Linked DNA regions of Homo sapiens. The protein of the gene in region 1 purifies or fractionates together with the protein of each later gene. This does not show direct contact. Each region holds a gene or a part of one and is shown on either strand. Other genes may lie near its edges.

Region 1 (3,824 bases):
GAGAGCTCAGTCTAGAGAAGATAGACTAAACAAGCAAGGACCACACAGGGCAAGGGAAAAAAATTCTGTAACTGAGGTCTGTTTAGGATGCTTTGGCAACATAGAAGAGGAGGCCCCAAAAAGAGCAAAAGAGCAACACCTGCAAAGGCTTAAAAGTGACAGTAAGCATACTGAAGGGTCCCAGGACCTTCAGGAAATCTAACTGGTATCCAGTTGAGATGAATGTTAGCAAACGGCAGGGGATGTCAGTCTTTCAGAACCCCACCAAAGAAAGCTTACAAATGACTACCACTTACACAGGTTCAGATTCAAGAAGTACTTTGTGTGACCAGTGGTAACAATTACAGGATACTCAAGGCTAGTTACAGAACTGTCAAAATGTAAGGGCTTGTAAGGACCCTCTTCTGTAGATGAATATACAGATACTTAATAAGTAAGTGGCAACAGTGGGCTGGAACACAAGGGCTGTGGTTTGAAAGTGTCCTCCAAAGTTCACGTGTTGAAAACTTGATGCCCAATGTGGCAGTGTTGGGAAGTGGGGCCTGATGGGAGGTGTTTGCATCTTGGAGGCACCACCATCATGAACTGGATTAATGCCATTATCGTGGGAGCAGATTCGTTATGACAGGGGTGGGTTCCTTATAAAAGGAACCTCTTGTTTGAAACTTTTGTGCACGAGGACAGGCACTTCCCTCCCCCTCCTCTCCTCCTGCCCTTCTGCCTTCCAGGACGGGATGACCATGACACAGCAAAAAGGCCAGGTGTCAGGCACTCAATCTTGGACTTCTTAGCCTCCAGAACTGTAAGAAATAAATTTCTGTTCATTATCAGGTATTCTGCTATAGCAGTACAAAACAGACTAAGACACCAAGCTACCTAAATCAGTTGTCTTCAAACTAGGGTACATGAAAACTTCCTGAGCCACATGAAAGCAAGCATACTTTTTCACAATCAGGCTTCTCCCACTTTACAAAATAAAGGCCCATCACCCCTCCACTCTGAATCCATGCAAAAAGGTGATCTAAAATACTCGAGCTGATACTGGAAGATGAATGACTTAATGACTGAATAACAATTCCTTTTACAAGTCTGGAGGTTTCCAGTTTTCCTGCTTTCTACAAAATTAGAGGAGATGAATGGCAAGCTAGTTGATTCAAAAAATCCACTGTATTTTGACATATAATTTTAAAGGTAAAAACTGAGTCTAAGTGACCTTCATATAACAATATTCTGTCCATTTCCATCTACTTATTTATGTCAACAGGGTTCCTTAAAGCTTAGATCTATACAAATGAAAAATCTTATTCTAGTATTAAATAGTAATTATCCACAGAATCATCAAATAATTGGGGGTGGAAGGCTCTATCTCATCAAGATGTTTTCTTCAAAAAAATGTATAACATATCCATTTGGTTGTTTTTTTTGTTTTGTTTTTTGTTTTGAGACGGAGTCTTGCTCTTGTCGCCCAGGCTGGAGTGTAGTGGTGCAATCTCAGCTCACTGCAACCTCTGCTTCCTGGGTTCAAGTGATTCTCCTGCCTCAGCCTCCGGAGTAGCTGGGATTACAGGCACCAGCCACCATGCCCAGCTAATTTTTGTATTTTAGTAGAGACGGGGTTTCCCCATGTTGGCCAGGCTGGTCTTGAACTCCTGACCTTAGGTAATCTGCCTGCCTAGGCCTCTCAAAGTGCTAGGATTACAGGCATGAGCCACCGCGCCCGGCAGTATCCATTTGTTTTGATGAATTTTATACTAATAAGTACAGTAGTAATGCAATCGAAAAGAAATAAATACTTAGATTCATGAGAACAGGAAATAAAATTTTAATGTATACTTCTGTCACGTGTGATAGAACGACCAATAAAATATTTTCAAGCATAAAAATAAATGAAATTAAATTAATATTTTGCAGGGGAAGTGGAACTGAAATATGATTGAGGAAAAAAGAAAAATAAACATTTCTGACTCAAATAAGAGCTTGTTCATCTACATGTTTTAAAATGTATGACAATAGGTCAAATTATTATAGATTTAGAGCCCATCAGATACATTTAAAAGAATAATGAAACAATTGTTGTTTTTAAGTGTATATTTACAATATATCAGAAATCACTTCCTTTTCAACTCTTTATTTATAATGAAAAAAACTGATGTCAAAAATATGTGATGGGGCCCAGTACAGTGGCTCTTGCCTGTAGTCCCAGCACCTTGGGAGCCCAAGACAGGACGACCGCTTGAGGCCAGGAGTTCATGCCAGCCTGGGCAACATAGTGAGACACAGTCTCTGAAATAATAATAATAATAATAATAACTAATTTTAAAAATACATATTTTTACAACATATAAAAATATATATATTATATGTGCAAAATGGGATGAAGAATTCTCCAGAATTCTCTTAGCGGTTATGAATACAAAAATGTCTTTTAGACCATAGTCCAAAATCAGCACTGTTATCAGCCCATTCTATCACAAGCTTTCTCTAGACAGCCTAGGAGACTAGAAGCCTGCGAAGGGCAAAGACAGTGCTCATCTCCACTCCCAGGGAAAAGCAATCCCAGAAACACAGAACTTTGGACTTCTAGAGGACAGGCAAGGGAAAGCAGAGCATGCTAGCTGAGATGACAAAACAGCCCTTGCTCCCTGCTAGTCAGCCAAAAAAAAGGTAAAAATGTCAGACCAAATAGCATACTTATGGGCTGAATAAAGAAATAAAGAAGCACAACTCTACAACCCACACAAAATTGTTATGTTTCTGCCATGTACGTACCAGGCAAAATTCTTACCAAACACTACATGGGACAGGAAGAAAAAGTACTGCCTGCTGGTCACCTGTCCCATAGGGTACTGAAGGTTAAGTGTAGGCATTCACAGAAATACTGACACTTTTCCTGTAGTTTCACAGGGAGAAACCAAGTAAAAACAACTGCTTTAAAAAAAACAAAAAAAGAAAGAAAGAAACCCATGTTATGGAAAGAGTATTGCCAATAGCGAGTTGGCAAAGCAAACTGAATTTTTCAGAGTTGTCACCTTCTGTCATTGTTCAAAATTCTCAGGCATACATTTAGAACCACTGCCCCCTCATCCAATCAAATTATGGCTTATGAGGCCTGAAAGCCTAATGCTGGAGGGCTTTATATGGTTCTTTATATTTTTCAGGTTATTCTATTAAATTGTCTACTAATTGCACTTTTTTTGTTTTTTCTGATATAGGGTCTTGCTCTGTTGCCCAGGTTGGATTGCAATGGTGGGACTAAGGCTCACTCCAGCCTCAACCTCCCAAGGCTCAGGCAATCCTCCCACTTGAGTCTCCCAAGTAGCTGGGACTACAGGATGAAAATTTTCTAGCTCGTTTTAAGGAAAAGCCATAGCATAACTGGAGGATGGGAATATCATGATTTAGTAAGTACTACAAAATGATGACTTTCCTCTACTTGGATCTTTTTAGAGGTAACTTTTTCAAATATGATAATCATTAAATAAAAATTCAGAAGACTAAACTTAGAACAAAACCTTCAGTCTTGAATGACCACCAAAACTAACACCACCAAGGTCATCCAAGACTCACCAAGTATTAAACAAGATTTTTAAAAATAAAACGTCTTTCAATCTTCAGTCACAAATAAAAAATATTTTAGTATCAAAAGATTTTATACCATTAAAGAAATTATGTTTCTAAATGTTTCCTTTTTCTCATTTTTTATTCCTATTTTGTATGTCATAATTATATATGGGTTATACTTATATATTTTATATATATGATGAAAAGATCGAATGCTTTCATGACAAATCAGCTTAATGACTGAAATGGTTTAATGGACACGA
Region 2 (3,824 bases), 2.2 Mb from region 1:
CAAATTTGAGACTTGTAGATGAGAATCCTCCTGACAATGAACCATAACCAGAAATTTCCATACATCTATTATATTTTTTGGCTTATTTCATGACTTCTGTATTTTTCATTAGGAACTCTACAAACTTTACATTTCTGATTGTTGCTATATGTTTCATGTTCAACTGTTTTAGAAACTGATGGTAAATAACAGATATATGCCTCTAGAGTTAAGTACAAGGTTGATTTTGTCAGCAAAACAGGTTTTCAGTAGGTGACTGATGTCATTGAGGTTCACTTTAAAGATCTACTCAAAAATATGTCCCAAATAGAGAAGTGCTTGAGGCTTATATATCATCTTGATATGTGACACTATTTCTAAACTATTTATAAGGAAACAACTTTCTTGCAAAAATCAGAAACCTATACACAGATTTAGATTCAAGTACATTTTTAGTTATTGAGCTCAAGGAAAAGGAGCATATACGAATAACAAAAAGTTGGTAATTGTTATCCCAATCAAATTTAAAAAACATAAATTGCATTCTTCAACAAAATATCCAAAAAGAGTAACTGATACTTAAAGTACATCATTTCAGATTATAGTTACTTTGCCATATGACATATTTGAAGTGAACATCAGTCTGCACACAGGAAATTTCTTTTCATTCTATCCCCATGCAGTGCATGCAGCTAAATATAGTTTGTGGAAAGCGACCTGCTTTACAATGCTTAGCACTTAGAATTCAGTAAGTCCAAAGGGAGTATTAACTGTTAATAGGAAAGGTGGTTAGCTGTGGCAAAAGAAGACCTGGCAAATCCATCATAAAAAAAAAATTATGAAGGAACATACTGAATTACCTCATTATTCTATCACCTATTGTTGTTCCTCTGATATTAAATCTAGTGAAGGGAACACAATAACTGAAATCACTTACAAAGACTTCAAAGAACCAAATATTTAAAGCATTAAGGACACCCTTTTTATCATCAATCATCTCAATTTAAAAAAAAACTTTTGTTTCCCTTTGTGACTTCGGGCATTAAGCAAGGAATATGTCAGTCAACTAAATGTATATGAAGAAATTAAGGAAACAGAAACACTCATTGAAGCTAGAATAGAAGGAAGACATTGCACTTAATCCCTTTTATCTTTTAAATAAATCAGAACCCAATCCTGTCACAGTATGGGAAACTGCACTGGCTTATAATGAATACCATCCTCTGGAACACGTACATGCTCCTCAAAGCTGAGGAGCTCTTTGGAAAATAAATAATTAAGCCCTAAGCTAATTCACTTGGCCTAACCACAAGACTATATAACAAATGAGCAAAGAATAACAGGGCTTTTAACTCCCTAGGAGTCCAGTTCTTTCTCTTTGAGTACATCTTTTCTCTCTGCAATTTTCTTTAATAAAGAGTAAACTGCAATAATGAGAAATAAGGAAATCATGGTTACAATGATGACTGAATAAATGCTGCCAAATTTACAGTACAAGGAATTTTGGCTTTAAAAGTGAGGGCTATGCTCCATGGTCCAGAGTAGGTATATGGAACCAAATTTCTATGAAAATAACACTTTAAAAGTTATTAAAGGGCAATATAGGATAAATCACTCTTTAGGGAAAAAATTGTTAGATCATCCTAACTGAGGCTATAATTAAAAACTATTCAAGACTATGTGAGGACTTATTCAGGAAGCTTTCTTAGATGCTTGTTTTTTTTTTTCAGAGAGTAATTTAGGTTTTCTCTTGAGTTTAGAAACAGTAAGAGCTACCAATCAGGCCGTCAAATCACTTACAACAGATTTGGCATTGTAAAAAAAAAAAAAAATTATACAGCCTGGGTGCGGTGGCTCATGCCGGTAATCCCAGCACTTTGGGAGGCTGAGGCAGGCGGATCACGAGGTCAGGAGATCGAGATCATCCTGGCTAACACGGTGAAACCCCGTATCTACTAAAAATACAAAAAATTAGCTGGGCGTGGTGGCAGGCGCCTGTAGTCCCAGCTACTTGGGAGGCTGAGGCAGGAGAATGGCGTGAACCTGGGAGGCAGAGCTTGCAGTGAGCCAAGATTGCCCCACTGCACTCCAGCCTGGGTGAGGGAGCGAGACTCCGTCTCCAAAAAAAAAAAAAAAAAAAAAAAAAATTATATGCAGATTATCTAAACAGAGATCTCAACCACACTCTTTTCATTCCAAGGGCATATATTTACGTTTCTTAACCCAGTATATGGCCAGGCGCGGTGGCTCACGCCTATAGTCCCCCAGCACTTTGGGAGGCTGAGGCTTGAGGCCAGGAGTTCAAGACCAGCCTGGTCAACATAGTGAGACTGTCTCTTCTAAAAAAAAAAAAAAAAAAAAACAACAACAACAACAACAACAAATTAGCAGAGTGCAGCAACATGCACCTGTAATCCCAGCTACTTGGGAGACTGAGGGAGGAAGATCGCTTGAGCCCAGGAGTATGAGGTTGCAGTGAGCTATGATCATACCACTGCACTCCAGCCTGGGCAACAGGGCAAGACCCTGTCTCAAAAAAATAAAACAAAATGAAATAAATACAGTATATAAAATCACTAAAAGATACACATACTATTTTTTTGCTTTGTTTTGCTTTTTTCCTAAGTCAGACTTATTTTTGACATTAGGACTAATTTTATTTTTTTAAACACCATGATTAGAGAACAAACATTTCTTTCTGTCTTTTTTCAATTTATTTCCCATTTACTGTTCCATGTTCTTGCCTTACGCAAAGTTAAAGGGAACCCAAATATGTGGAGATTCATATTATTTCATTGTTTCAAAGTCTGGATTTTTGCCAGTAGAGGCATTTTACCACAGACTATAGTTTGATTTCTCTCTATAACACTGATTACTATAGAGCAGGTATTTGCAAGCTATGGCTCTTGGGCTAGATCTCCGCCAAATGCCGATTTTTGAAATGAACCTTAGGCTAAGAATAGTTTTTACATTTTTAAATGTTAATATTTTAAATGGTCATATAAGTACCTACCATAATGGTCTCCATTTTGTCTCCTGGCCAACAAAGCCAAAATATTTACTATATGGCTCTTTAGGAGTAAGTCTGCTGCTCTGCTATAGACTCCCAGTTACATTTACATAGACTTGCTGTAGTTAATGAGAAGAGCATTCCATTTAAAAATATCTATGTTAGTTGTTAAGGTCTTCATTTTCTAAGACATTTCCTTCTCATGCTTGATCTCAGCCCAAAAGTGAAAACCTGGGTCATTTATTTAACCAAATTATAAGAATGTAAATATTTTTTTAAAAATCATTACTCTGTATTGCAAGGAACTGTTCTGATATTTTCAGTAAATTTGTCAGAAATGACTTAGCTATAAAGCCTTTTAAAGTTTCCTTTTAAAAATTAAATTTGGAACAAAAACTGATGAGGTCCACTATATAGTTCTTCATATAAAGTACAGATCAAATTAAGTATACACTTGTATAATATTTAATTTTAGGACCACTTCTCTACCCCAGCTAAACTAATATTGACTGGGCTTTGCAAATGGCAGCATGGAGGGAACTTTAAGACATACATCCTTTTAGGTGGGCATTTCATCCATGTGTGCAATGTATCCTTGGACTCTAGGAACCAAATGGTATGATTGTTACAACAGAGCTTCACAACCCTTAGTCTCTTGGGAAACAGAAACTCTCCAAAATCATAGGACTAATTACAAGCTGGTAAGTGATTCTTTTCATGTTCTTAAGAAGCAAAATCTCTTAAACTTTCTCTCTTTAGAATAAAAGTCAGCTAAATTGAGAAGTAAGATAAACTGGCAGGAGTGTCAATGATGAAGAGCCCTTAGAAAGGTGCA

What was found.
Region 2: the proteins of UCK2 (region 1) and DCAF6 purify together in Homo sapiens (affinity purification with mass spectrometry; one large-scale study listed by BioGRID and IntAct). This does not show direct contact.

The regions. Positions count from the first base shown.
Region 1 is NC_000001.11:165,833,846-165,837,669, reverse strand, and holds part of UCK2 (uridine-cytidine kinase 2), read right to left. Parts: intron 1-3,824. UniProt on the Homo sapiens protein: Phosphorylates uridine and cytidine to uridine monophosphate and cytidine monophosphate. Does not phosphorylate deoxyribonucleosides or purine ribonucleosides. Can use ATP or GTP as a phosphate donor.
Region 2 is NC_000001.11:168,047,949-168,051,772, reverse strand, and holds part of DCAF6 (DDB1- and CUL4-associated factor 6), read right to left. Parts: intron 882-3,824; coding exon 840-881; intron 1-839. UniProt on the Homo sapiens protein: Ligand-dependent coactivator of nuclear receptors. Enhance transcriptional activity of the nuclear receptors NR3C1 and AR. May function as a substrate receptor for CUL4-DDB1 E3 ubiquitin-protein ligase complex.